Regions from separate parts of the Homo sapiens genome. Here all the other regions are linked to region 1. The links come from fine-mapping of genetic effects on gene expression. A gene starts in region 1. Each other region holds a variant in brackets. All regions are shown on one strand. Distances are between the middles of the regions.

Region 1 (10,076 bases):
GTTTTACCATGTTGGCCAGGTTGGTCTTGAACCCCTGGCCTCAAGTGATCCTTCCTCGGCCACTGAAAGTGCTGGGATTACAGGTGTGAGCCACCACGCCTGGTCAATATTTAAAGCCATAGACTGAATAAGGTCACCTAGTGAATGAGAAACTGACTTCCTGGAAACTGCATGAACAAGGTGCTTATAGAACCACTGTAAGGGTTTCTCTGAGGCATATCCAGGAGGGTGACTGCTGAGTCATAAAGCATACTGCTAATTTTTTTCACTAAGCACTGCCAGGTTGATCTGCAGAATATATTTACCAGTTTAAATTTCCATCAGCAGTGCATCTTTCCCCAGATCTTTGCCAATATTTGGGATTATCTTTCTGATTTCTGCCATGCTGGTGGGTGAAGCAGTGGTGTGTTGAAAACAGTTCATGAGAGCTGATAAAGCACATTTCTTCCCAACTTCTTGTTCAGTGACCTCAAGCTACACTGGTAGCTGGAAACTGGCAGTGCTCAGAGTATTTGCACCATGGAAATTGGCAAACACTGTACGTTAGGACTTTTCCTTCCCTGGGGAGCGGGTTTTAAAACATAGACCAGCATATTGGTGGCTATGGGGTCACACTCTTTATATTCCCACTCTGATTACAAGTGGGGTTGAGCATCTCTTTAATGCTTGCTTGCCATTCTGGCTTTTCCTTCTGTGAATTGTCTATTCTTATACTTTTCTCATTTTTATATTGGCCTTTAAAATATTTTATATTGACTTCCTTTTGATTTGTGAAAAGTTCCTCATGCATTTCAGATATTAATCCCTAGTTGCTTTTGAACATAGCACATGTTTTCTTCCAATTTGTCAGCCATCTGTTAATTTTTTCTATGGTATTCTTAACTGAACAGAACCCTTAATTGTGATGCAGTCAAGTCATACAATTTTTTTTTGCTTCAAGGATTGTGCTTTTGCAAACCTGTTTTATGAAGTAAATTCCTAACCCACATTATAGAGATAGTCTCCTGCATTTTCTTTTGTATCATATGTAGGTCTGCCATTTATCTGGAGTTCACCTTTGTATATGGCAGAACATGGGGCTCTCAACTTTATTTTTCCTTGATAAATTAAAGCCAGTTTCCCGAATGCCGTCTTCTAAATAATTTATATTTTTCTCATTGATCTGTGGTACCACCTTTGTGTAAATGGAGGTAGCATTTATACGTGGGTCTGCTCCTGAGTTCTTCATTCTGTTTCCTATTTGCTCTATGTGTTCCTATACCAGTACCATAATATTTTTATTACTATGTGGCAATGACATAATATCTGGCATGGCAGGTCTGCTCTGGTTTTTATAATTGACTTAACTGTTTAAAATTTATTTCTCCTTATATATTTTGTAAGTTTGTTGAGTTCCCTAAAAATTTAGTTTCTGCTGGAATTTTGGTTGCCATAACATTTACTTTGGAGACTAAATGGATACTTTTACAATGTAAAGTCATCCTATCCATGCTGTATCTCTCCACTTATTCAATATTTTATGTCCTTAAATAGAGTTTTAAAATTTTCTCCTTAAAGTTTTTGCAAGTTGTTGGGTTAATTCCTGGATATTATGCTTTAGAGTTTGTTAAACTTTATTGTTATTGTGAATGGTTTCTTATTGTCTGTTACATTTCCCAGTTGCTTACTGCTGATGTAGACAAAACTATTGATTTTTAGAAACTGATCTTGTACTTGGCAACCTTGCTGAGCTAACATTACTTCTAATACTTTGTTGATTCTGTTGGGCTTTTTATGCTGATGATCACACCTGTAAACATCACAGACAGGAAGATATTAGGGGCTCTGCCCAGTGCTCTGATCTTTTGCATTTAAGCACTTCTGCTAGTTGAACTCCAATCTGGTGCCCCAATTCTGACAGTTGGGTGTCTCTCATGGTCCTAAGGGCCTAGGCCCCCTATACACTCACAAATTAGAAACTGATGATATTCCATCCCATATCCAGTCCATGTAAAAGCAGTGACCTTGTCTTCTTTTGCTATTTCCTCTAACCCTTTTATCATGGTCGGGGTCCTGAGAGCTGCTGACAGATCTTCCTGCTGCCGAGTGTCTGAATTCCTGAATGCTGCTCTATGCAGCCATTCTGGGTCTTTAATGCCCCCAAAGACAGCCTGTGTAGGTTAGCAAAGTAGTGAATCAACATAGGCCTTCAGATCAGACAGACTTAGGTTTGAATCTTATTTCTGCCCCTGGCTACATGGAGCAAGTCACGCAGCCTCCCAGAGTCTGCTTCTTCATTTGTAAAGTGAAGACAAGATTTCCATAGGTCAAGTGCCTTACAGTGGTCAGTGAGTAATGCCCTTTCTCCACACTGTGATGTTGACCAGTAAGTTGATCACCTCCTGACGCTGTGGATTATTGCTATACTTTTCAGGAACTTTGTGTCTCCAGATAGAATTGAATCTCAGCAGCTACAGTTGGTCCACATCCCCATGTGCCTTCCCACCCCAATGAATAGTTCAAGTTCCAAGTTCTGGCCACATATCATTGTCCAGTCTCACTCTGGTTAACTGGGCAATACCTGGTTCTAAAGCTTGTATGTCACGAGGTATTCTAGGAAGCATGACTCCAACGAGCACTTGCATTCTTGATGATGGTATAAAGAAGTAACGTCAGATTTTTGAACAAAGGCAACTAAGTGAGTGGGAGACTCTGGTGGCTTGGTATCCTGGGAATTTGCCTATGTATCATACAGTGTTTGGGTGTAGCAGATAAAGCCAGTGGCCTGGCTGGTTCTAACAGAGATCTTTATTATAACTAAGAACAACTGAGCTAGCCATGCCTTGTCACCTACTAATAGTGGTATTTCAGATGGATAATTTAAATCAGCAATAAAAGTGAACTGTATACGTTTGGAAACTTCACCAATAGCTACTCTGTTACACACAGATCTTTATGACTTTCTGTGGTTCAATGACAATTGGCCTCATTTATAGGTGCTTGAAGCCAACCAAGGGCAGATTGCCTTCCTTCTTTTAACCAGCTAAAGAGATGGGTGGGTCAGACAAGAAGAGGGTATGATGAAAGCAGGGAAAGGGAGGTGGACTCTTCAGAGGGAGGAGGAAGTATCCGTGTCACATTATCTCTGAGAGCACTCGCAGATGCTGAGCCTGCAGAGACAGAGAAACTGGCAGCTGACCAGGGTCAGGGATGGTCATGTATTCAAATATTGTGGGTTTTAGTCAAGTGTGCTCCACCCGATTCAACAATGTGATGTGACTGCTCCTAGCAACTATTTTGATATGGTGAATGTTGTTAAGCATAGGACCTAAGAAGAGGTGGCAGTCTCTTTCCTCTCCGCACTTGGCAGGCCACCCACTCATTCCTGATAATCACATTTAAGAGAGCTCTGGACAAGCTGGAATGCATCCAAGAGAATCCCTCAACATGCTGGTGAGTGGGATTGTGACCAGGTCATATCAGGAGTAGCCTAAGGGACAGGTAATGTGTGTCTTGGATGAATTGGAGTCAGACTTAAGAGTCCCCAGGGCAGAAACAAAATCCAGTGAGGGAGAGATGCAGGGAGCTGGATTTTAGCTCCTAAGGTAGAAAATTTCCAAAAGGCTGATCAAAGATTAAATGGCTGCCTTAAAAGGTAATGAGTTCCTTGTTAGTGGAGGTGTTCAACCACTGCTTGGTGGGAAGACACTGTAAGGAGGATTCAGGCAAGTGGGAAGGGGGCTTTTTCCAGTCCCTGAAATCAATGATTCTAACAGGAAAAGATGCTCCGGGGTGCGGTGAGCGCTTACCTCTGCTCTTGCAGAGACACTGACAGACGTTCATTCAACATCTGTTCCTGCCAGGCACTGTGCGCGCTGAACACAGAAGTACAGCCTCTATGAAGCAGCCGCTGTAGGCCTCAGAGACAGCTGATAGATGTAACACTGTTGTCTCCATGTTTCAAACTTCGGTCATGGTCTTACTAGGTCTCCTCATTAAGGGGACTCACTATGTGTCCAGTAACGCTTTCTTGTTACCAGATGACAGAGAGTCAGGCTGTCAGAGTTCACGACTTTAGGTGCACAGTTTCACCCTGTCTGGTCCTTGGGAGACGGAGAAGGGGTCAGGAGAAAACGTGGGTGAAGAGGCAGCAAAGCCGCAGGAGATATGAACTAATTGCTCAACGTGGGTGTAGCACGGATTAGGCCTTTTACAGCAAGCGCTGCCAGCAGGGAACTGGTGGATGTACTCTTGACCACGCTCGGCTGGACTCTGGGGAGCCCAAGACGGGTAAGACTAGGTCCCCGGCCCCAGCAGCTGGTGGGGGCGCCGCAGGTTAGAGACGTGAGGCCGCGAGGCTGAGGGCTGTGAAGGCGGTGGGCACGCACGGCGTGCCGGGGCCGCCTGGCTTCGCGGCGGGGGAGGTAACACTGCGACACCCCGCAGACGCTGTCAGCCGGGGTCGCGGCCCCGCGTGCGCCCGATCATCTGACTGCTGGGGAGTGCGGGGGCGCGGGAGCCAGGCGAGCCAGCGCAGGCGCGCGCTGCCTCCTCCGTCCCCACCGAGTCCCCAGCGCGTGCGCGGGGCCGTGGCCGAGGCCTGCGCGCCGCCCGGCCGCCTGCACTGCGCGCGCGCCCACCCCGCGTGGGAGGCAGCGGGAGGGGCCCGGAGAGGTGTGGAGCGGCGCGGCGGGAGGCTCCGTGGGCGGCCACGGGAGACAGCGCCGGCGGGAGCGCGCCTCTCGGCCTTTCCTCCGCGCCCCCGCGTCCCCAGCCGGCCGCTCCGAGAGGACCCGGAGGAGGCAGGTGGGCCGGGGGCGCGCGGGGCCCCCCCGGGCCGCGGGCTGGCCGGCGGCGGGGTTGGGGCCGGGGTGGGCGGCCCTGGGGGCCCGCGGGGAGGTCAGTGGCCCCGGGAGGGTCGCGCAGAGGCGCTGGGGGCTGTGGAAGCCCCGCGGCCGCCTCCCGTGGGCACCGGTGTCGCTGGCCGCGGGGAGGCCTTCTCGGGGCGGAGCGGCCCACCCGGCGGGGATGGGGACTCCTCGTGGCGGCCGCTGACGGACGGCCCAACTTTAGGTTGAGGGGCGCGGGGTGTGCGGGACCCGGCGGCGGAGCTGGGCTCTGGGCCACGACCGCCAGCCGCGGCTGCCCCGAGAGTCCCCGCACGCGCAGTGGCTTTCCAACGCGGCCTCTTCCCATTTCTCACTTGACTCCCCTTGCGCATTAAATTGTCGAGAAACCTTTGGCCAGTGGGTCTTCAAAGCTAAACCAAATGGCTGTCCTTGCAGTCCTTGGCTACCTGAGATCCCTTAATTCTGAACCATCCGCACCTGGGAGGGGAAGTTGAAAGGAGCGCTGGAGCTGAGCCCGCATCCTTAAGGATCCCATTCACTGCTTATGATGGTAGAGCTTTGAATTAGATGTCAGGCTGTTCACGTCATCCAGACTCTGGTTTTCAGCTCTGTGCTGAGACAGTGTTTTGATACGTATCAGAGGATGATGTTCCTATGGGACAATAACTTGCTGTATGTTCTGAGATACTAGACTGCGTTCATATTGTAGCACCATCATCGTATAAAACGGGCGCCTTTGAAAGGTTTCAGTAAACACCTTCCTCAGGAACATCCGCCAGCACTTAAATTGTACTTCACTTTCACTTTGACGTTTGTTGTTTGTGAATCTTGTGCACAATTTAAAGTGAGTCGTCTAAACAGCACAGGATCACGTGGTGCGGGGCATTGAGCAACTGGGGAGGAAAGCAGAGACTTGAACCTGCTGGAGTCTAGTTGGTCTGCGTTTTTATGTTGGAGAACCATCCTGGTTCCAGCTTATTTTGCTTTCGTAAATATGATGCATTTTTTAAATGCTTTCATTTGATACGGTCTATCTGGACTGTAAGATTGAGTCTAGCCATGCATGGAATGTGTTTACTTCTGTTTTGTAGAAGATTTAGCCCATGGTATTCTATTTGTAGGATTCATTTCAGACATTTTGTGTTTACCACATACAGTCCCACCAGCAAGGGCTTTTAAAAAAGTGACCTATGTTGTCTCTCATAGCTTATGACAACTCCAATTTTGACACGTGTTTGAAACTAGTGATCTTTAGATTATATAAAATCAACTTCACTCTTTCTCCCTGTTCAAACCTCAAACTCTGGTTACTTTTAGGCTTACTGCTCCCTTGTTAATTATTTATAATGAACTATGGAGCTATAGGCTTGCTTTAGTGTGTTAACCTTTATTTGTGTCTTGTTTCAGGCATTTGTATATTGTTTTCTCATCTGGAGAGTGAGCTGCACTGTTTTCCTTCAGTGCTGTTTAGAAGAGCTTTCGGAGACCAGAAACATGTTCTTTTTGCATTACCCAATATGGTAGCACTAGCCACATATAGCTTTTGACCACTTGAATGGGGCTAGAGCAGTGGAAGCACTGAAATTTTAATATTTTTTTTCTTTTCCTTTTCTCTCTCTCTTTTTTTTGTTTTTGTTTTTTTTTTTTGAGACGGAGTCTCGCTCTGCTCTGTCACCCAGGCTGCAGTGCAGTGGCCTGATCTCTCCTCACTGCAATCTCTGCCTCCCAGGTTCAAGCGATTGTTCTGCCTGAGCCTCTCGAGCAGCTGGGATTACAGGCGCCTGCTACCACACCCTGTTAATTTTTGCTGTGGGGTTTCACCATATTGGCCAGGGTGGTCTCGAACTCCTGACCTGAAGTGATCTGCCCATCTCGGCCTCCCGAAGTGTTGGGATTACAGGCATGAGCCACTGCACCTGGCCAATTTTTAAATTAATTTAAATAGTCACATGTGGCTAGTAGTTAGCTGGTCAGATGCCACAGCTTTAACTTATTAGTCTCCAGGAAGCCTTCGTTGACCCTCTTGAATCTGTGCTTTCATAGGACTCAGCTGTCCTTGGTCATAGCACTTACTACTTTCAACTTTCTGGTAGGAATCAACACTAGGCTGTAATTTATATGAGGGCAAGGACAGATCTGGTTTCTTTACCTTTGCATAGCTTAGAACTTAGTAAGAAAAACTGAATAAATATTTGTTAAATGCATAAATAGCTTTTTCAGGGCAGGTATTTCAATTTTTAATTCTCTCTAAGGCCAACTAAGTGTTCAGTACTGTAAATACCTGTTTAGTAGATTGTACAGATGTTATGTAGGTAGCAAATAAAAGGATCATTGGAGTTATGCTTTAAATACTTACGTGGTGAGATTGGAATCTCAGGAGAATGATGACTCATAACAAAGTATTACAGGAAATTGAATGAAAGGGCCTCATGATTCCAGCTAATGTAGACACAGCTTTGGTCTCCTATTAGTTGAATAACTCAAGGACACTCTTGAACCATATCTCAAATCTGAAGTCTCCTGGCTTCAGTAAGGCCCTTTTATGGGGTCCAGACAGTCCTGAACCAGCCTGAAGATGCTAGTGGACATCCCCATTTATTACTGCTCTGTGTTAAAGCATGGACCAAGGAGTCTTGGAAAAAAAATCACAAGGTATTTGAGCCACGTTATGTAAGATGCTTTTGCTAACAGCTAACTTGGAGTGATGAGTAGGGTGAAATTCCTATAGAAATCAGAGTTTGGGGAATTTGATTCTAGCTATTGTTAGTATCAGAGGCACCTGTTCTGTAGACAGTTGATTAGTGCCAATTTTTTTTTTTTTTTTTTGAGATGGAGTTTCGCTCTTCTTGCCCAGGCTGGACTGCAGTGGCGGGATCTCGGCTTACCGCAATCTCTGCCTCCCAGGTTCAAGCGATTCTTCTGCCTCAGCCTCCTGAGTAGCTGGGATTACAGGTGCCCTCCACCATGCCCAGCGAATTTTTTGTATTTTTAGTAGAGATGGGGTTTTGCCATGTTGGTCAGGCTGGTCTCGAATGCCTGACCTTGGGTGATCCACCTGCCATGGCCTCCGAAAGTGCTGGGATTACAGGTGTGAGCCACCATGCCTGGCAGGGCCAATATATATATATATATTTTTAACCTGAGGCTTACTTTATAATCAGTTATCACCAGTTAACCATAGTTGGATTTGGAATGAAAGTGTGTACTCAGTTCAGATCAGTATACTTAGACATTTGACCAAGAGTCCAGGTGTTGTAGGTCTTCAGATCCAGGAATTGCTTTTAGGAAATGAATCTGAGACTATAAGGAAGTTTATAGGGGTACATAGTTTCCTTTGGGAGGACAAAAGGTAGAATGTTAAGTTTTTCACGAAAATAAGGAAATGTAACTAGAGAAAAACGCAACAAAGACAAAATACAAAGAATGTTCACTGCATTGGTCAGGTAATATTGTAGCTTCTTCTGGACTTGAAGTATCTAATATGTAAAAGAATGAAGCTGGTTACATCTGATTGCATGAATCCTCTTTCCACTTTGAATCTAAGCTTTGAATATTAGTTAAATATGTGTAACACACTATTCTAGCTCCTGTGGTGACTGCTAGTTGTGTACGATAGAGTTCGTATCTTTGAGGATCTCAACAGTTTACAAGGAAATGAAAGGTGCTCTGGGGATCACTTAAAATTTTTTTTTTTGAATGGGAGACTCCACCCTTTGAAAGGGAAGTCATGTGGTGACTCCTCTTAACCGACTCAGACAGATATCCACTGAATCTTTTTGCTGAAGAATTAAGAGTATAAAAACATGTCTGAGTCCCAAACCGTGATTATAGTCAGATTAATTTTCCTAAAACAGCTTTAATCATGTTACTCTCTTTAAAAAAATCAGTAGTTTCCCAGTGCTCATGAAAGTAAGTGGTTTGGTCTTTGATGAGGTATTTGCTCCTCAGTACAGCCCTAAAAAGCCCTTACAGCCTCACCTCTGACTGTTTTCCTAGTCATATCCCAAGTTCCAGCCTACTGTTCTTTTAATGGGATCCCCTTTTATATTGATACCTATTCATCATTCAAGACTCATCACAGATGATACCTTCTTCACCATTTATGATTCTTAGAAGCTCCAACTGCAAATGTTCCTGGTACTTATGTGATGGAGCAGATCCCATTCTGCCTCATAATCTATAGTTATTAGTGGTATTTTATTCACCTTAATAGATTGTAAACTACCTAAGAAGCATGGACCATCTGTTAACTCATTTTTGTATTTGCTGAAACATCTAGAATAGTGTCTTGTATATAGTGGTTCCTTAATAAATACTCATTACTGTTTGGAATTGATAGTATTTGAGGAAGATCACCGCTGCTCTATAACACTAATTCCATGAACTTGTCATTTTCCTATTTATGTGGCAAGGTTAATGTCAAAATGCTTCTAAGTATTTGGTGGTAAGTAATTTTAGCATCCAAGAAAATGTGAATACCTTAAAATAGTAACAACTGGATTAGGTTACCTAATATATAACATCTATATCCATATAAGCATACGATTTTTGAGGAAAAAGAAAGCCTCCTACTTTTTACCAGTTCCTGCCAGTATTAAGAAAACATGAATCAAGTTAGGAAGACAACAGTGAGCTCAATGAAATGACTGTTTTATTGTAGTGGGGAACTGATGGTAAGGATAATTGAGTTAGATATAGGGTTGGTTAAGTAGAACAGAGCACACATTAAGTAGTAGCTAGTATGGTGTTGTCTACTACCAGATCAAGCCATTGATTACCTATTTTTATTCTGTGCTTTCTACTGAAATAATCTAAACTCATTTTTCATTTAGTTTTATAATGTTTTGCTTACATTTTAAAAACAGGAATTCATGATACTTCAGATAGTAAAGATCGGATACAAAAGAAACTGGAAGGCTTTTAGCTTCATAAGTTTGGTTTTACTAGCAGTTTCTCTGCTTTCTACATCATTTCTGAGATGTAGGCTAGGGTGTAGTACAAAGTCTAATTTAGAGCAAATTTATTCTAAGCACTCATGTTTTCTGGGAAAAAGAGGTAATATAAGCCATGTGCTTTAAAAGGCATGGCTTCCATCTTTGGCCAGGATAGAACTCACATACCTCGGACCTTGTTAAGTTGAACAATCTTAGTAAACTCTTAGATTTGTAAGAGGGATATGATTAATTTTCAGTAAAGTTTTCTGGGATAGAAAATAATGGAAACATTTTAAGGTAGATTATCTTCATG
Region 2 (10,076 bases), 110 kb after region 1:
AAAAACTACTTGCTCCTTCCCATCGCTGGAGACCTTGTCACACTTTTCTTTTCAGGGGACCATGAGCAGGACCAGACTCATCCCGATTTGACAGGCTTTTAGCAGTAGCTTTTGGGTGAAGGGAAATTTAACAGGGATGAATATCAGTGGCGGGATGTTGGTTTGAAACATGAGCTGCACAACTATGGGGTGAGGATGGAAGGTGAAACGAAAGTGGATCTGGAAGAGATGTGGGGGCCGCAGGTGACCAAACAACAGGGTGCGCTGTAAGTAACACCCTCTGAGGCTAAGTTACTTCCTTGTGGCCCTGAGGCACTGGGCTCACAGTGGGGAGGGGTCCTGTGCCCTCTGCTGGCCAGACCACACGGAGGTATCGTGCTTGGTACTGGACACTACATTTCAAAAGGGACATCGATAGTGGAACACATGCAGAAGAGGGACACTGGTGGGGCGGGGGAAGAGACACAAAACTGCATCTTGTATGAACTGCTGCAAACAAATGGGTTATTTAGTCTGAAGAAGAGTTAAAGGAGGAGGATGGGGCCAGGTGCGGTGGCTCACACCTGTAATCCCAGCACTTTGGGAGGCCGAGGCGGGTGAATCACCTGAGGTCAGGAGTTTGAGACCAGCCTGGCCAAAAGGTGAAACCCTGTCTCTACTGAAAATATGAAAATTAGCCTGGCATGGTGGTGGGCGCCTGTAGTCCCAGCTACTCAGGAGGCTGAGGCAGAAGAATTGTTTGAACCTGGGAAGCGGAGGTTGCAGTGAGCCGAGACCACACCATTGCATTCCAGCCTGGGCAACAACAGTGAAACTCCGCCTCAAAAAAAAAAAAAAAAAAAAAAAAGAGGAGGAGAATGGGAGCACTGTCTTCAAACACTGCACATGCACAGCTGCTGCTGTAAGGAAACCTAGGAGAGGAAGGTTAAGGCAACAGGTCCCCAGCTCTGAAACTGCCCAAGGGAACAGAGAACCTTAGGAGCAGTAAGATCCCTGTCACTGGGCATGTTTAAGTGGAGGCAGGATGGCCCCTTGGTGGGGGTGGTAGAGGGCTTATTCTATAGTAGAGGATTTTTAAGACTCCTTCAGGAGCCATGACCCACCTTTCACACAGTGGTCAGAGCACTCGAGCTGTGGCAGGTAGGGGAGGGACAGAAAGTTTACAAAACCGAATCCAGGGTGTTCTGGAACCCAGAAACCATTTGTGGTCATGGGCCAAATCTCAGGCTATGGGCCCCTCTGCCTCCCCTGGCCCTGCCCCCTTACCAATGCAGGAGACGCCATCCTCAGCCAGCACCGTCCCGTGGTCACAGAAGCAGATGACCTTGTGGCTTTCAGGGTCCATGTGACATTCGTCTACCTCACAGTGACTGCAGTTTAGATAATGCTTAATATTCACTTCCCCGTGGCCTTCCATCACTAGTGACAAGGAGGGAGGGTCAGTCTTGGGCCGAGCCTGCCTCCCCACTCCCAGCCTCAGTACTATGTCTCCAGGTGGTCACTGTGGGTGCTCTGGTGGTCCCTGTTCCTAGGTCCCATAGCCACTGGAAGCACAACTGTGTAGAAGAGTCTTCCTGTGCATATAGAGAGTGCAGCGGAGGCAGCGGGCATGGGTGTCTATGGATGTTTGCTTTTGAGTCAGTGGTGGAGAGAAGCCCACGCACATGATCTTTAGGTTGGCTGGTGCAGGTATTGGGCTATTACTGTTACATTTCCTAGGATTCTGCCTCTGCATTCATATTAAAGCACACATCCTGACTTCTGGAAAATGTGGTGACCTGCGCCATAGGAAGCTTGCCTGCCAGGGACCCATAATTGTGCCTCTGTATCCTGGATACAGGTCAGAGACTCTGAGGTTTTAGCTTGGTGGGAGGACTGACCTAAGCAAGTTTGTTCTGCTGCCTGGCAGAGAAGCTACCTTTTAAAGCTGGGGTGTACAGGATGCCCAGTGGACTGATGAAGGAAACCCCATCTTCCCCATCCATTTCGGGGTCATTGTTTGAGGCTGCATTGCCGCCTGAGTAGCAAACCAGAGCAGAGTTTAACATGGGGGGTGGGTGCCAAAATCTTAACACACACACACGTCAGTGGGGCATGCAGCTCTGGCCAAAGTTAGGGGGTCACTGGGGACCTCAGGGGCAGGGATGCGGGGAGGGAAGGGAGGCTCAGGGCACAGAGGCTGCATGTGGGATTTGGCTCAGTAGATGCTGGGTGTGTGGCTAATTTCCCCTCAGGTCCAGGCCAGCTCCCACTCTGCCGGTGGCCCACTAAGAAGTGGTTAATGTGAGCAAGAGTCCAAAAAGTTCTAGTCTTTCCAGGCTGGGATATGCCCATGGTGCCTCTCCCAGGACTGGTCAGGATGGTAGCACTGAAGAGTTGCTCTTCAGCCCCATTGGGTCAGGGTTGGGGTGTGGCGGGCTGTGCGGATTGCGGGAAATGAGCCCCTGTGCCCTGAGGCTCCCGTCCCTCCTTTCATCTGGGGCTGGGCTATCTTTGGGCTCCCCCCTCGGGCTCCTCCCACCCACCCAGCTTGGAAAAGAAGAGCATGTGGTTAACACAAGCATCTTACACACAGCGTCAATGCAAAACACAGACACGAACACCACAGAGCATGCATGCATTCGTCCTAATCTGTGGGGAGCGGGGAGCCATCGTCTCCCAGCCTCTCAGCTTCAGAAGGCTCTGCTGACTGTGCTCTGAAGCCCAGACGAGGCAGCTGGGGTCAATGGGCAGCTGCTTGCTGAAGGGCTGGGCTAAGCCTGCCTGCAGTTGCCCTCGGGAATAGCTCCCATCAGCAGGCACAGCGGCGCCTTTCAGGAAGCTGGTGGGCTGAGGTAGGGAGCAGGAGTAAGGAGTCCATGAAACCACAAACCAGCCCCTTCAGGAGCTGGCTTGGCCAGGCCATCCAAGGGAGGCTGGGGGAGTCCTTATGGGTGACTCAGAGACTAGTCTGGCAAGCCAAAGCCTCTTTATCATCGACTTTGGGGGACATCAAGAATCACATGGGATCTTGATGCTGTCGCTGAGGAAGCCTGGAGGCAGGGTGCTGGCTCGAAAGCCAGCACCCTGCCTCTGGCTGGTCCAGGCAGGTCGAGAGGGAGGCGTGCAGTCACATCACAGTCCACACTTGGGCAGGCCAGGGGAGGGCAGGGGAGGGCAGGGCAGGGAGGTGAGGAGCCTAGGACTAAGCAGGGAGGGAGTGACACCTTGAACACGAATCATCTTTACCTATATATCCTCCGCCTCCTCCACCTGAGGAGCACCCCCCTCCACCCCCTCCGAAACCCCCTCTTGTCTCCCACCCCCACTTCTTCATGGCCTGGGGGCAGGAATGTCCTCCGGTGGCACCCTCCTGCAAAGATTTTCCGGCCCAGAGCAAGGAAGTGTTATCATTCCAGCCACCTCCACCACCTGCGGGAAGAGATAGGGAACCTGCGTGAGGATGCTGGCAAGGTTCAATTAGCCATGCTGGCCAGAGAAGCAGGATGCAGGACGCCTTGGAGGGCGCCCGCACCAGCTCCAGCTCCCGGGGCCCATCTTCAGTGGGGCCTGGGGGCTTCAGATCCACACTAGGAAAACCAGGAGGCTGCTTGCCCTAGGAGACCTGTTTGGCCACAGCTGAGTACACCCAGATGAGAGCGTGCCTTGTACCCCTGCTTCCTGCCAGTACTCTCTGGCTCAAAAGCAGGGGCTGTGCTTGGTTAAGGATGGGGGGACGTGGGCAGACAGGCAGCATGGCGACTAAACTCGTTCCTCTATCTTCTCTTCATGTCAGCCAAGCCCCGTAGCACTGGACCTTCGTTTCATTAACTGCCTCCCGTCCTAACGAGAAAAGGGACTCACCAGTCTTTGAGCAGCCACATGTCAAAACCTTGCACTAAAGTTCCTTGCAGGAATCCTGGACTAGGCTGACCAGAGAGCCCGTTGCTGTCTGTGAAACCCTGGGGAAGAACGCCCCATTCTGAGCCTGTGTTTCCTCACCTGTGGCTTGGGGATAATAAGACCCACCTGATGGGGTTGATGTTCCGCTCAAAGGAGACAGTGAGTGTACGAAATGCTCCACAAACTGCCAGGGGTGGGGAGCGTCAGGGGCTCGAGAGGCAGAACACACGCGTGCAGACAGCCTCACACCTGGGCTCAGCCTGCTTAGAGGTTCTCCAGGGCCAGGCGCTCAGGAACTGCTCCAAGGTCAGGAGCAGAAGCCCTGGTGGGTGGACGATACCCTGGCAACAAAGGCAGCCTCAGGGCTGTGCTTCCCAATGCCTGGGGCTGCTTTGGGCTCTTACAAAGGAAGCTATCTACAGAGCCGAGGTTGAATGTAGCCACAGGTTGACCACAAGAAATCTCTTCTGCTAACCTTTGAGATTCCAGGATATCCCCTATGCCTACTGTTCCATAGGACATTTGAATAGACATCTACAGTTGTCCCTCAGTATCTGTGGAGGTTCCAGGATCCCTCCATCACACCAAAATAAATGTCCCTTTATATAAAGTGGCATAGTATTTGCACATTCTCCTATAAAAAAATCATCTCTAGATTACATATAATACCCAATACAGGGTAAATCCTATGTAATAGTTATTGTATTATTTAGGGAATAAGTCTGTACATGTTCAGTAAAGACACAATCATCTTTTTTTTTTTTTTTGAGTATTTTTGATCTGTGGTTGGTTGAATCCCACGAACGCAGAACTGATGGATAGGAAAGGGTGGAGGTATTCTAAAAACCCTAAAACCCTTTCTGCTGCAGCAGATGATGCATGCTGGGGACCTGGAAATTGATGGTGGAAGGCAGAAACAGCAGTGTGTGTGTCTGCCGGAACCCTACGGGTGAACCGGCCTGGCAGGGTTTCTGGAAGCACTTGTGGCCCAGATTCTTTGGGACCCAGAGGGACCTGTAGGTGGGATGACTGTCTTGCTAGAAAGAGGAAGCCAGGTTTTGAAAATGAAGCTGAGGTCAGGAACAAGCTTGAATCTAGAATGGGGACAAGCAGAGCTGAGGCGAGGCCATCAGGCAAGCTGGGGGGACTTTGTTAGCCATGAAACCTCCAGGGGTGGGTGTTGAGCTTGGGTTTGTTTCGCTGTCCTCCCTTCTGCTCTCAGGGGAGGGTGTGGGCCTGTCAAGGCTGTTGTCATGTGGCAGAGAGAAGGCCCCTTAGGCGCGTTAGGGGCCAGAAGTTGGCGCTGGTGTTTGTGCACGGCTGTGAGTAAGCGCGTAATAAATAAATCAGAACGAGATGGACGGAGACCATGCGCTGTGCTTTCATCCTGCTCAGCCCCCAGCTGAGGAGGTTTCTGACCCCCATACCCGTTCTGCAGCCTTCGAGCAAATGTGTGGAAAGGAAAATAACCCATATCAAAATCAGAACAACGGTGTTTTAAAAATACGAATTGAGTCTGGCCAGGC[G/A]TGGTGGCTCACGCCTGTAATCCCAGCACTTTGGGAGGCCGAGGCAGGTGGGTCACCTGAGGTCAGGAGATTGAGACCAGCCTGACCAACATGGAGAAACCACGTCTCTACTAAAAATACAAAAATTAGCTGGGCGTGGTGGCGTGTGCCTGTAATCCCAGCTACTCGGGAGGCTGAGGCAGGAGAATCGCTTGAACCTGCAAGTCAGAGGTGGCATGAGCCGAGACCGTGCCACTGCACTCCAGCCTGGTGACAGAGCGAGACTCCGTCTCAAAAACAAAAAACAAAAAACAAAAATTGTCTCTATCACTAAACAGCTCGGCCCTGTTGAGAAAAAAAAAGTCATCATGCCTTGGTGAGCCCATTGGCTCTCCTGTAAAACAGGAATGGTATCTGCCTGGAAACCTGCAGGTTGTTTTGACAGCACATGTGCAACAGAGGCAGAGGTGCTTCAGGGTTTCTCGGGTGCTGGGCCTCGGTGCTGCAAACGTCACTGGAGATCCTCAGGGTGGACCCATGACTGTTTCTACTCTTCTATTCTAGCCGTCTCTCAATTGAGAGACAGTTTGCACATTTGTTTTAATTAATCCCAAATCTTAAATGCCTTCTAAGATCCTCCCACAGTCTGATTGTGTGGAAAAGAAAATACAAAAAGGAATTGCATTTTCTGTCTTTAGGGGTGGCTGACTTTAGAGGAATCAGGGAATTGACACTCTCTTCCCTGCCTGTCTCACATTTCTGTGCTTCTGGCTCCCATTAATGAGGGAGGAGAGCTCAGCCGTGGAGAGTCAAGTAAGAGATTTTCCAGCGGGGATACGCTTGGGTCTGGCAGCCCAGGGCCTGGAGGTCTGTACCATGGGGGTCTAGGAGGCCTGACATTGCCCAGATTTTTTTCACCTGCTCATATCCTAACTGGGGGGCCCATCTGCCCCTGGAGGAAGAAGGAATCTCAGGGGGAGGCTCTAACAATTGCAGGGAGGGCCAGCTGGCTGATTGACGGCTGCTCCCTGCCTCACTTTCTCAGTGACCTTCTACAAGTCCAAGCTCCAGGTCAGCAAGATGGCCTGCAGGGCTCCCAGGGTGCTGCCTGCCCTCCCTCCCTGGATATCGGTACCAATATTCAGAGCTCCTAGCATCCCAGGTGCCAGTGACTAAGATGCCCTCAGGCATGCGATGGCATCGGGGCCCAGCTGAAGGCCTGGGAGAGGTTCTGGGAGAGGGCACGCTTGCAGCGCTTTACCTGCGGCTCCGGAATTGCCGTTTAGCCCTAGAACCGAGGAGTTATTCTCCAGTCTCTCTGGGTGGAACGTGTCTGTCTTGGCCCCGTAGGCCCTGCCACCACCTCCGGCTGCAATGATCAGGGGCACCGGCACTCCATCCTTCATCTGACCAGGGGAGACATTCAGACATTGAGAAACCGAGCTGTGCTTCCCCCTGGAGCCCCTAAGCTCTGGTAAATTCAACCTGACTGAGGGTTTGCTGTTTTGGGGTGACCTGGTGACCTCTCAGTGGTCTGAGGTGGTTTGCGGGCTCTGAACCCTTGTTACAATAGCCCATCGGCTCCGCCAGCTTCTCTATCAGTCAGGGTTCAACCAGAGAAGCAAGACCTATATACCAAGAGCAAAATATAGATACCAGGAGGTGGGGGTTGATCTTAGAGGCTGCTTCCTCTACTTCCTCTAGCCCCTTTCCTGAAGCTCCTTAGACTGGCCTCAGAGGTCTGGATGCTGGTGATTAGAAGCAGGTCTCTCTATGCTCTCTCTCCCTCATTCTTAGGGGTCTCTGGCTCTGACCCCCAAAGATTCAAGGTTAAGCCCTCAGCATCACAGTCCTGTGGGAGGACCTAGCAGGTGGCCTCTGTCTTCAGTTTCTGGCCTGGCTGTGATGATGTCAGCAAAGTCCACCTTAGGGCAGAGAGCTGGTCCAGGAGGGCACAGTGGGACTCTCTGAAAGTAGGATGGCAAAGGCTGTGCATGGTGAAATTGGGCTGATGTATCAGTAAGAGAAGAGTTCTACCCTTTCCTGGACAGACAGACTCTATATCTCTCTGGATCTCAGTCTGCTCATCTTTATTTTTTAATTCTTTTGTTGGTTTTAGAGACAGGGTCTTGCTCTATTGCTCAGGCTGAAGTTCAATGGCGTGATGACAGCTCATTGTAGCCTTGAACTCCTGGGTTCAAATGATCCTCCTGCCTCAGCCTCCCAAGTAGCTAGGACTACAGGTGCAAGCCACCAAAACTGGCTAATTTTTAAATTTTTTTTGGTAGAGACAACGTTTTGGTATGTTGCCCAAGCTGATCGTGAATTCCTGACCTCAAGTGATCCTCCTGCCTTGGCCTCCCAAAATACTAGGATTACAGGAATGAGCCACTGTACCTGGCCCTGCTCATCTTTACACGGGGATAAGAGCATCTGAGGTGTTTCTATCCCAGGGCTGTCATGAGGCTCTGACATTGCAGATGCACAGGAACCTGGTGGAAATCTGGCAGCACACACCATACCTTAAATACGTAGGTGGCTCCACCCCCTCCTCCTCCGCCTCCTGCCCACTCATGCACGCTTCTGTTCACACGGATTTCTTCTTCTATCACATTGTTCTCTCCAATGCAGACTTTCTGGATTAACTGGTTTGTCTGTAGAAACAAAAAGCACGTTAGGTTTGTGGCCAAACCAGAGTTCTCCACTTTGCAGCAGACAGAACTTCTATGCTTAAAAACAGGATCTGACTCTCTCTCAAAAAACTTACAGTTGAGTTGAGGAGGCAGAAAAATATACCAATAACTGTCACTCTGGGCAGTGTTAGGGAAGGACCACAAGGATAGCTTAGACAGAAAATGCTAGGAGAAACTGGGAGAGAGAGAGCAAGGTTTTATTGCTGTGAGGACTGCTTGTAGGAGGCGGCTTTTAGTTGAGCCTTGAAGGATAGGGAGTTTTTTTTTGTTTGTTTTTGTTTTTTTCACAGAGAGTGGGGCAAAGTTATGTCATTCCAAGAGCAGAGAGTGGCATGAGCCCAGAGGGAAGTGGGTGAGTGGGGTGCGTGGGGGAAAAGCACAAGGGTCTCTTTGGCCCAGAAGTCTATCAGGACAGAGAGATTGTCCAGGACCTGTTTCGATCCTGTGGGATGAAGAGATCCAAGAAAGAATGGGAAAGGTCCTATGTGGTGAGATGGGGCTGGAGGGAGCGTAAATTAGGTGGGTAGAGAGAATTAAACGGAACAGTGTGATCATGGCTAGAGGCCTTGAAGGCACTGCAAGGAGTGGACTTCATTCTCTATGAGAGCCGTTCTCTCACTGAGAGCCATCGAGGTTTTCTGAGAAGTCACAGTTCTGAAGCATCAGGAGGAGAGAAAAAAACCAGCAAGAGGCCAGACTCAAGTTTTATTCCCAGTTCTTCTCTGGGAAGATCAGTTCTCCCTTTTGGACATCTCATTCCTCCTAGCTAATGTTCCATTTTTTCCCTCCGGAATCCCTGGCACACCCCTCTGCTTGCCTTGTAGAGTGAGCCCTGCAATCAGGTAGTCTGGATTCTCCACCCACCCTGGGAAACTGTGACAGGGGCCCTCGATCTCTGATCTTCCAGTGTGGCTGCGAATGAAGACAACACAGGTCGTTGTGGCATTTACTGAGCGTAGTACAAGTACTACCCTCAGGCATCTAGTGGAGCGCCTCACACATGGTGGGAACTGAGTAAATGGCTGCTGTTCTTATCTGTTTGTTTTTGCCATCTTACTCCGTGCAATGGCACGACCTTGGCCCACTGCAACTTCTGCCTCCCAAGCAGCTGGGACTACAGGTGCACACCACCATGCCCCGCTAATTTTTGTATTTTTAGTAGAGGAGGGGTTTTGCCATGTTGGCCAGGCTGGTCTTGAACGCCTGACCTCAGGTGATCCGCCTGCCTTGGCCTCCCAAAGTGCTGGGATTACAGGCGTGAGCCACCGTGCCCAGCCAGCTGCTGTTCTAATTTAGATTCACTTCTGGGCCCACATATGCTCCTGGTTGGGGCTCAGGTATTAGAGAGTCCCCAGGATTGTGCTGGAGATTTCTGTAACAGAATCCTGGAATCCCTGAAGAAGTAGGATGGTGCTTCAAAAACAGCCACGCCTGCTTGTCGGCCACCACAGCTCAGACGAATTCTTCAAACATCAGCCTGACCTTGGAGGAAAGTGACTTTTCTTTCACTTAATAGAAAAAAAGCCAGTAAAACATCACATTTCCATCGATGCTGCTTCGTAACCAGCTAGTGGATGCAGCCATTCTTCTTGAGCCACTTCTTACGCTAAAGCGCTCAGGGGTGCCGGCAATGAGTACTACAGAAATTTCCAGATAAATAGCCGAGATGCAGTTTGTTTCATGGAATTTTGGATTTAACGATGGAAATAATTTGATATTTCTTAGAGTGGATCTAGTGTGGGTGGAAGGCTCTGAATTGCTATTGTAGAGAGCTGGCATTTCCCATATGTATGTGCAGCTATGTCCTGGCCTGGGGGGAGACTCCTGGGAGGAGACCCTGCTCACTGCCACCTGGCACAGGCGTGAGTTGCAGGGAATGTGCCCTGAGGGTTGGCCCTGGGGATGGGTCTGAGGGATGTGAGCTGTCAGCTGGGCAGAGCACAGGATTCAGGGTCCAATCTGGGTTCTTTCTTTTGAGACAGGGTCTCACTCTGTC
Region 3 (10,076 bases), 89 kb before region 1:
GCCCTGTAAGACTCCTTCCTGTCCTAGGAGTTTATGATTTCAGCATCTGTCTCCTGGGAAGGAGAGCCTAGAAAACACGACAACCTGTTTGTTGTGGGTCCCTGTGTGTGTGGCTGCATCTGGACTGTGTGGGTGCCAGTTAGCTACATTGTCTTCCTCTAGCCATCTGCTCTTGGACTCTTCCCTGCTTGTGGGCAACCTCACAAAAGGCTGGATAGCAAGAGGGAAGGAAGAGGCGCTGACCATACAGGCCTCTGGTTGGGAATGAGGTTAGACCGCCACCAAAGTGAGTAGGGAGATCATTCATTGATGGCTCAGGGGGCCCCACCCCACCACAGATGGGGCAGGTTTGGAGGTGTCCCCCTGACTGGGGGGTTTAGTCCCATGACATCATGTGGCTTATCACAAATCTGTTTATAAGAATCGCATTGGCAAGGGCAGGAAGGGGAAAAGTCAGCCAAAGGTAGAGTTAGGAGGTCTTCATGGCTCCTGGGGAGGGAGGCCCAGGCGCTGGGTTCTTAGCCTCACCAGGCACTTCCACTTGTACACCCTCCCTGTTAGGTGGGCTCAGGGTGGTGGCACGGCCTCCCATGGTGAGCGGTGGCAGGAGCGGCCACTCGGGCTCTTGCCTGTCCTGCTGCGTGAAGCCTGCTGTTTCTTTCTTGTGAATGCAGCTAACTCATTACCTGCGGTGCTCACGTTGGGGTCTCCTGAATGGGAAGAAGAGGAGGAGATGGATCTTAGAGCCTGTAAGGAGTTGAGGCCTTTCTCGAACCCGGAGCTGGGGCTGAGGGATGCACTCCAGTGCCTCAACAGCAGTGACTGGTGAGGAGATGCTTCCACCACGTGCTGTGTTCTGGCCGGAAGCAGGGGCTGTTGCAGAATAGCTTCTGCCCCTCAACTTCCCTCCTCTCCCACTCTGGGGTTCCAGCACCATGGAGCATAAAAGCCAGTTTGGAGGGAGGACTGTGCATGCATATAGATATGTGTGTTTATGTGCGTGTGTGCATGAGTGTGTGGTGTTCCTGGCTTTATGTGTGTGCCCTGCGACCCTCCAAGCAGCCTATGCATGGCTCTGTGGTGTACCAAAGCCAGGCATGGCAAGGATGCATTTGATTCCACACCATGGGGCCCAGGAAGGCCGCAGCCCTTTATTTCTCTGAATGAAATTGAATCTGCTCCGAGCGCTCCTCCCACTGTGGGGATGCAGGACCGTAGTCATGAGCAAAGCAATGCCTCGGCCTCCAGAACATTTGTGAGAAGCCCTCCCTGCCTTCAGTCCTCCCTGTTCAAGTGCCTTTTATTGAAGGTGTTGGCTTTGTGTCAAGGACCCAGACAGGTCCTGGAGGGGGGTGGGCTTCCATACAGCACTGTCAGAGCTGAGGGCTGGCCAGAGGCCACATAAAACTGGCTTTTACTGAGTGGTTAGGATTCCAGGCCAGGGTGTTACCCCGGGAAACCCTGCTCTGAGGCCATGGAATGGCACCCTGCTGCGGGTGACGGTGGACCGTGATGGTGTGTGATGTGGGGCCCCTAGTCTGCAGAGGGGTGGGGCTCCTCCCTCTCCACCCTTCTGCAACAGGGCCTGGCCTTGCTTCTCAGGCAGATGAAGGAGAAGGGTCTGGTGAGCATCCAGCGCTTGGCAGCCTGTCACTCAGAGGTCCTCACCGGGAAGCTGCACGACGTGTGCTTGGTGGTGACTGGGGAGGTGAGGCCCCCCAGCCTGTGTGCTGTGCATTTGGCCCCACTGCAGCTGCTGGATGCAGTCCGCTAGCAGCTGTGGAGGGGCTGTGGCTTCAGGGACATGGGGATCCCTGCTTATTTCTCAGCCTTCAGCCACTGAGGTAGGAGGTAGCCACCCATTTCTCAGATTGGAAAACTGAGGCCTAGGGTTTCCTTATTTGTAATCTTTGAGAATGGAAACAATTAGAATCCCACATGCCCATGTGTCGGCCTGCATGGTCCTCTGTACTCAAAATGCCTAAGGAGGGATGGAGCGTCCAGGGCCAGATCCCCAACTCCAGGGCAGTGGTAGTATTTCCCAAAGCGTTTCTTTCATGGCTCTGTGGCTTGGTCTAGCTGGGTCCAGAGAGGCAGGAGGCTACATTTGTTCTCATGTGGAGGCTGTGCCCTGCCCTTGGGAGTGGGCTGCTCCAGTGGGGGTGGGGTGGGGATGAATACGGAGGACGCTGTTTTGTTAACACAGGGGCCTGGGCTGTGTGGGGAGCATCTGCCTTCCTGCATGTGGCCTGGGGTCTCTGTTTCCTCTGCAAAGTGAGGCATCCAGAAAAAATACAGTTACATTCTCCCAGGTTAATTAGAGCCTCAGTCAGCACTACTGTGCTTCTCATGGTACCTATTTCTCACTTGGTAGTTGCAAAGATCAAATCAGACATTCTTTGTAAAAGTGCTTTGAAGACAGAGTGTACACATTTCCTATGGTCATGATAATGATGGGATTAATAATTGAGATGATAACAAAATGGGACAGTTTTGCTCAGAGTGGCTGCAGGGTTTTTGTTTCCAGCGTGGCAAGGCCTAGGTCAGGGGAAGGGTGGGGGTGGAGGAAGAGGGTGGTGCAGGGCCCATTTTCCATGCGTCCCAGAGCCCTTGGCAGGGTCCAGCACCCTGGAGGGCCTCTCTCCTCTCTCCAAGGTCACCAACCTGCGGTCCAAGGTGTCTCACCTGGCCATCAGCACCTTGGGAGACCTCTTCCAGGCCTTGAAGAAGAATATGGACCAGGAGGCCGAGGAGATCGCCCGCTGCTTGCTGCAGAAGATGGCGGACACCAACGAGTTCATCCAGAGAGCAGCCGGCCAGTCTCTGAGGGCTATGGTGGAGAATGTGACCCTTGCCCGCTCCCTGGTGGTCCTCACCTCGGCGGGTGTCTAGTATGTGGCTGCCTGTTGTCTGAGGGGCGGGGAAGTCAGGGAAGGTAAGGCAAGGGGAGAGGCCCTGGGATGTGAAAGAAGGAGGGAAGGGTGCAGGGAGGGAGGGAGGGAAGCAGGCAAGTGAGGCTGCAGGGGGTCCCTTGAGATGCTAGAGGACAGGGTGATGGGTCAGAGGTTCTGAGTGAAGAAGGGGCCCATCTCAGACTTCACAGCAGGTGCTTCCCACTTAGCTGGGGGAGGAAGACCCCTGCTTCCCTGTGCCGGGCATCCGGCTTCTCTCCCAACCTTTCATCGGCCAGGCCGGGGGAATGCAGGGACCTCTGGCTGGAAGAGGAGGGGGCCGTTGCACTCCAAGGCTGGGGAGCACACCGTGGCTGTGGGAGCGCCCCGGGAGACAGGGCTGCAGAGGCAGCCTGAGCATGGGCCCTGGAGCTCCTGTCACCCCCAGGAGCAGTGTTGCTTTCTGATGAAATGTGGGCCAGTGAGAAGAGAAAGTCGCAAAATTTCATTCTCCAGCTTGCCCCACTGGACCTGCTCCTGGGGAGGGGAAGGTATTGGGTTCCTGTTGGAGCCTTTCTGCAGATTTGTTTTCCCTGTCATTAAACACCCACACTAAAAGCAAAACCAAAAGCATTTCCCAAGCTGCTTCTCCCGCACAGCAAAAGGCCTCTCCACCCCATAAGTGGATCATTACACTGATGCGTGAGGTTTCTCAGTAGCCCCAGGGGCCTGTTGGACCAGCTGGGAGACCTTTAGTAATTGCACCATAGCATACTGCAAAGGGTGAGATCCTGCCCAGCCACATTGCCTGGGTTCACATCCTGATTGTCACTTCACTTCTCTGTGTCTCAGTTGACTCATCTGTAAAATGGAGATAATAATGGTGTCTACCTCATGAGGTTGTTATGAGAGGTAATTGAATTGACTCACGAAAGCGCACTTAGAAAGGTGCCTGCCCATTCCTGACATTCACTGAGTGCTTACTGTGTCTATAATTAACTTAGGAGAAATGAATTGTATTTTTTTTTTCTGGATGCCTCCCTTTGGCTCAGCTTCCTCACCTGCAGAATAGTGATGATAATAGTAGCTAATGAGGTAGATGTGAGATAATGGATAAAAGGTGCTGGCATGGAGGGACAGGCAATTGATCACTGTCAACAAGAACCAGGGTCATGGCTTGTGCATCTGAGTCCGCTGGGATCTTGCTGAAATGCAGATTCTGGTTCAGATGTCAGTGCTGCTGGTCCATGGACCATGCTGAGTAGGGAGAGTTCTGATGTCCCCCACTGTGTTCCACTGGGGTGAGACTCTAGGGGACAAAAGGGTCAGTGCTTCCTGATGGAGTGTGGACACAGAGGCCCTTAGAAAGAGGTGCCATTCTGACAGGTTTCTCTTATAGAGCTCAGGTTCCACTTGTTATGGTCACCAACTCACCCATGAATCCCTCTTCTCCCTCCTGTCTCAGTTCAGTTCAGCAAACATGCATTAAGCTCCTGCCAAGCACCAGGGATGTGTCAGGCACAGCAGGGCAGTGGGGTTGCCACAGAGAGGGAATCAGGACTCCAGCCAGGACACTAGGTAGGGAAGCACCAGGGGCCTGGGGCGGAGAAGGCAACCAGCCAGCCCCGAGGGGCCTGGAACATGCAGCTCAGCTTCCCTGGGATTCTGCAGAGGGACAGGCAGGTGGATGAAAGCTATGTCCTTCAGCTCTAGTCCCATCCCTTCCGTCAAGCCAAGCCCATTCAGCAAGGAGTCCTTACTCCCTGCCTCCACTTTCTTGCCTTCCATTTCCCCTCTGCCCATCGAGTGTTGCTCTTGTTTCTGCCTCACCCCAGTACTGTTCTCTGTACATTCAGGCCTTTTTTTTCTGGAGATACTTAATGATCACTCTTTTCGTCATTATGGATACAGCAGTGAAAAAGAAAAATGAAGCCCCTGTTGTTTTGGAGTTACTTCCTAGTCAAGGGAGACAGATAACCTGGTCCCCGCCCACAGGGAGCTGGCAGCCTGATGGGGGCCCTAAGGGTGCAACTGTACTTCCCCGGGGACAAAGACAGCGCTACCTTGGGCAGTGG[G/A]TGGGATGTCTAATTCTGCCTGTGGGGCTGGGGAAAGAAGGAAGAAGAGACACTGGTTAGGTAGGACTTTTCTAGGTGGAGGGAAGATGGAGAAGAGTACTTAGACAAAAGGAAGGATGTGTGTGCAGGAAGCTCCCAAGAACGGTATGCATACGGTGTATTGGGGAACCTCGTGTAGCTTCATGTCACTTTCCTTCCCTCTCCCGTTGTTGCTGTCACCCTGTTCGTAGAAAGTGAGTGCTCTTTCCTCAAAGATTCCCCTCAGCTCACATGGGGACAGGTATTTTTGGAGCCCCTGGCTGGCATGAAGCATGGGTCTGCAATGGTAGATCCATGTTTGCCAGCCTGGGGACTCCCACACCACTATCCTGAGACTGACCCCTGGGCCATGATTTCCTTTCAGCCACCGGAACCCCTTGATCCGGAAATACGCGGCTGAGCACCTCTCAGCTGTGCTGGAGCAGATCGGCGCTGAGAAGCTTCTCTCGGGCACCAGAGACAGCACAGACATGTTGGTGCACAACCTGGTGAGGCTGGCACAGGACTCCAACCAGGACACCAGGTAGGGCAGGGCCAGGGGCCTGGGGGCAGAGAAGGCAACCAACCAGCCAGCCCTGAGGGGCCTGGGGCACACAGCTTCAGCTTCCCTGGGATCCTGCAGAGGGACAGGCAGGTAGGCGGAAGCTATGTCCTTTCCTTTCAGCTCTTGTCCCATCCCTTCCATCAAGCCAAGCCCATTCAGGGAGGGGTCCTTACTCCCTGCCTCCACTTTCTGGTCTTCCATTTCCCCTCTTACCCATTGAGTGTTGCTCTTGTTTCTACCTCACCGCAGCACCATTCTCTGTAAGAACATTCAGGCCTTTTTTTCTGGAGATATTTAATGATCACTCTTTTTCTTATTAAGGACACAGCAGTGAATAAGAAAAATGAAGTCCCTATTGTATTGGAGCTTACTTCCTAGTCGAGGGAGACAGATAATAAATAAATAATTATGGTAATTTTAGATACATATCAGGGATATAAAGAAAAAATAGGCCGGATGTGGTTGTTCATACCTGTAATCCCAGCACTTTGGGAGGCCAAGGCAGGAGGATTGCTTGAGGCCAGGAGTTGAGACTGGGCAACATAGTAAGATCCTGTCTCTACTTAAAAAAAAAAAAAATGCTAGGGGTGGTGTTGCACACTTGTAGTCCCAGCTACTGAGGGGCTGAGGTGGGAGGATCTCTTGAGCCCAGGAGGTAAAGGCTGCAATGCAATGGAGTTGGTGGGGGGGCTGCTTTAGACTGAGGGTTCAGAGAACCTTTTTTAAGAGTGACATTTGAGTTGAGAGCTGAACGGCTACACGGAGCCAGCTCTTTGAGGATCAGGCAAAGCAAATGTCACAGAGGCCACTGGATGGGAACAAGCTTGGTGTCCAAGGGTGGGGACGGCCAGCCTGGTGGAGCACAGTGAGTGAGGGGTGGGGGTGAGGGTGGGCAGCAGGCCCAGGTCAGAGACGTTCTCCTAGGCCAAGGTCAGGAGTTGGGATTTTGGATGGTGTGTGATTGGAAGTCATTGGAGTGTTTTCTTAGTGGGAGTATGAGGAGGTGTTGGAGGATTTTAAGCAGGAGAGCGAGAGGATCTGGTTGACTGTCTTCAAAAGCTAGGGCTGGAGCCCAGTTCCTCACACTCCTCAGTTCAGGGCTTATTACTACCACATCCATTTGGATGAGTGTGTAGGTCTCCACCCCTCACTCCATCCTCGCCCCAACTGGAGACCATGTGGCACCTGTCAGGGCTCCAGAGGCCATGCCCACCCTGGATGGGTGAGCTCCAGGCCAGACATTCTCGTAGGGTACCCACGTCTGAGGGTGCTCCCTGAGGGATGTAGTGCCTGCGGTTCCTCCCATTCTCCCCTGCTGCAAACTGTGCTGCATGGCACCTCCTCGGACGTGCCCAGGAGCAGGACCGTGGGTCAGATGCATGTGTGTGCTCCAGCAGCCCCGCCCTGCCTGGGGTCCACATCTGCCTCCCTCCTGCACAGCCTCTCAGCATGTGGCAATTTCTAGATTTCTAATTTTTATCCATCTAATGGGTAAAAATGATAGCTCATCATTGTTTTAGAGTGCTTTGACCCCCTGCTTATTAATAATGAGTTTGAGTGTTTCTTTACATGCGTGTTAGCCTTTATAATTAAAAAAAAAAGCCTCTCTGGCTGCCGCAGGACTGGTAGTGAGAGAGAAAGGCAGGAGGAACAGCAGATGATGGCTGCCCCACAGTCCAGGCAAGAGGGGCTGGAGGCTCAGACTGGAGAGTGGTGGGTGGCTTCGGCCAACAGCCAACAGGATGGCAGAGCCAACAGGATGCAGGTGGTAAGGGTTTCAAAGACGAACTGAAGATGCTCTTAAGTTTTTACCCTGAACAATGGTGAATAATAGTGCCATTTGCTGAAATGAGGAATATCAGTGGAGAAGTGGAAGGTTTTGCTTACTCCTGCAAGAATGGCCATAATCAAAAAACCAAAAAATAATAGATGTTGGCGTGGATGTGGTGAAAGGGAACACTTCTACACTGCTGGTGGGAATGCAAACTAGCACAGCCACTGTGGAAAACAGTGTGGAGATTCCTTAAAGAAGTAAAGGTAGAACTACCATTCGATCCTGCAATCCCACTACTGGGTATCCATTGGGTATCATCATATGAAAAAGATACTTGTTCACGCATGTTTATAGCAGCACAATTCTCAGCTGCAAAAATGCGAAAACAGCCCAAATGCCTCATCATCAATCAACGAGTGGCTAAAGAAACTGTGATATGTATGTATGTATGTGTGTATACACACACACACACACACACACACACACACACACTGGAATACTTAGTCATAAATAGGAATGAATTAATGGCATTTGCAGTGACCTGGATGAGATTGGAGACTATTACTCTAAGTGAAATAACTCAGGAATGGAAAACCAAACATCGTATGTTGTCACTCATAAGTGGGAGCTAAGCTATGAGGATGCAAGGGCATAAGAATGACATAATGGGCCGGGTGCGGTGGCTCACGCCTGTAATCCCAGCACTTTGGGAGGCCGAGGCTGGCAGATCACAAGGTCAGGAGATCGAGACCATCCTGGCTAATACGGTGAAACCCCGTCTCTACTAAAAATACAAAAAATTAGCCAGGTGTGGTGGCGGGTGCCTGTAGTCCCAGCTACTCAGGAGGCTGAGGCAGGAGAATGGCGTGAACCCGGGAGGCGGAGCTTGCAGTGAACCGAGATCGCGCCACTGCACTCCAGCCTGGGCGACAGAACAAGGCTCTGTCTAAAAAAAAAAAAAGAATGACATAATGGACTTTAGGGACTCAGGAGGAACTAGTGGCAAGGGGGTGAGGGATGAAAGGCTGCAAATAGGGTTCAATGTATACTGCTCGGGTGATGGGTGCACCAAAATCTCACGAATCACTACTAAAGAACTTACTCATGGAACCAACCACCACCTGTTCCCCAATGACCTATGGAAATAAAAAATTAAAACAAAAACAGGCAAACAAAACATTGCCTGGCTGGGTGCAGTGGCTCACATCTGTAATTCCAGCACTTTGGGAACCCAAGGCAGGTGGATCTCTTAAGCCCAGGAGTTTGAGATCAGCCTGGGCAACACAGTGAAATCCTGTCTCTACAAAAAATACCAAAATATTAGCCGGGCATGGTAGCACGTGCCTGTGGTCCCAGCTACTTGAGAGGCTGAGATAAGAGGATCGCTTGAGGCCAGGAGGCACTGGTTGCGGTGAGCTGAAATAGGGCCATTACACTCCCGCCTGGGCAACAGGGTGAGACCCTGTCTCAAAAAAATAAATAAATAAAAAAATCACAAATCACATAGCCATTAAACTTGGAGCAAATACTTTGAAGAGTGAGTTTAGGGGGACTGGAAGAATGGGATGAAATGTCTATAAACAGCTATTCTTTGTGTAGCATCTACTAGAGCATCTACTATATAATAAAGTGTTGTGTAACTCTGCCATGCAACGAAAAAAAAAAGGACGTAGAAGGTTTTGGTTTGCTTGTTGGTTTTAAATGGTTGTTAGAGGGATGGAAATCAAGGTCTAAAGTCTCTCCAGATCTGCTACTCCTCTCCATTCTGACCCATCCCTTACACTAGATGATGGTGACTACATTTCCTTTTCCTTCCTAGAACTCTGTCCTTCCTGGTTTCCATGGCACTGTACTCCGGGGATTCTCCTTGTCCCTCTGTGACCATTCTGCCCCTGACTGCCACCTGAGTGTAGGTGCTGCCAAGGTGTCTTTAGTCCTCATCTCCCTCTCCTGGCTTTTACTTCTGGTGGCTCCAGCCACCAGCAAAGTTGGAGGCTTCTCAATTCTTGCCCTCCACTCCAGACCCTTCTTCGAGCATCAGTCCCCATTTCTAAAGCCTCCATGGGACCCACCATCTGATGTCCTACTGCCATCTGCAGTGCTGAGTGTCCCTAAATGAACTCATTGCCTCCTCTCCAAGTCTGCCTCTCTGTGTTCTCTCTATCATTAAAAGTGACTGTTATTTACTGAGCCACCCAAGAGGCACAATGGGGACTCCCATACTTCATTGATTTCAAGACACACATCCTTCCCTGGTTTTAATATTTTTAAAATTGGCATGTATCTTACAATGACAGGCATTTCACAGTTGCTGTTGGGCTTCAGTTGGGCTAGGCAGTGATTAGGACATAGGTGTTTTTGTAGTTTTAAGAGATGGGGTCTTGCTATGTTGCCCAGGTTGGAGTGCAGTGGCTATTCACAGGTGTGATCATTGCACACTACAGCCTTGAACTCCTGGGCTCATGTAATCCTCCTGACTCAGCCTCCCAAATAGCTGAGACAATAGGTGTGCACCACTGTGCCCAGTTTATGATGTAGTTATACTATCTGCACCTTCACAAACTTAGTCAGTGTTGCTCAGAGTATTATTTTCTGAATTAAATTTTCCATTGTAGGAACTACACTATGAGCCTTTCTTTGTAAATTTTTAAATTTATTTTCAGAAGTGATTTTTGGATGCTCTCTGGAGAATCATTGAGTTTAATCTGTTTAAAGTTTCTTAGAAATATTACACTATTATTTGCAATTGAAAT

What was found. PIP is the estimated chance that this variant, and not a neighbour inherited with it, causes the effect. A credible set is the group of variants that fine-mapping cannot tell apart.
Region 2: its variant is the best candidate, but not a certain one, in a credible set for the expression of CLIP4 in fetal neocortex (Walker 2019, PIP 0.51).
Region 3: its variant is the best candidate, but not a certain one, in a credible set for the expression of CLIP4 in T cells (TOPMed, PIP 0.70).

The regions. Positions count from the first base shown.
Region 1 is chr2:29,110,881-29,120,956 of GRCh38, forward strand. It overlaps CLIP4 (CAP-Gly domain containing linker protein family member 4), which reads left to right and starts at 4,535. Exons shown (of 16, transcript NM_024692.6): 1 at 4,535-4,785. It overlaps LOC105374386 (a long non-coding RNA gene), which reads right to left and starts at 3,864. Exons shown (of 3, transcript XR_007086265.1): 1 at 3,789-3,864. RefSeq lists silencers at 4,396-4,755, 4,946-5,185.
Region 2 is chr2:29,225,656-29,235,731 of GRCh38, forward strand. It overlaps ALK (ALK receptor tyrosine kinase), which reads right to left. Exons shown (of 29, transcript NM_004304.5): 14 at 7,910-8,041; 15 at 6,649-6,793; 16 at 3,229-3,411; 17 at 1,919-2,017; 18 at 1,267-1,419. Among named protein-coding and RNA genes, the nearest start is that of CLIP4, 120 kb to the left of the region's middle. The variant G/A (reference allele first, on the strand shown) is at 5,409.
Region 3 is chr2:29,021,484-29,031,559 of GRCh38, forward strand. TOGARAM2 (TOG array regulator of axonemal microtubules 2) reads left to right here. Exons shown (of 20, transcript NM_199280.4): 11 at 675-825; 12 at 1,603-1,708; 13 at 2,656-2,891; 14 at 5,370-5,528. Among named protein-coding and RNA genes, the nearest start is that of TOGARAM2, 45 kb to the left of the region's middle. RefSeq lists an enhancer at 2,244-2,745. The variant G/A (reference allele first, on the strand shown) is at 4,967.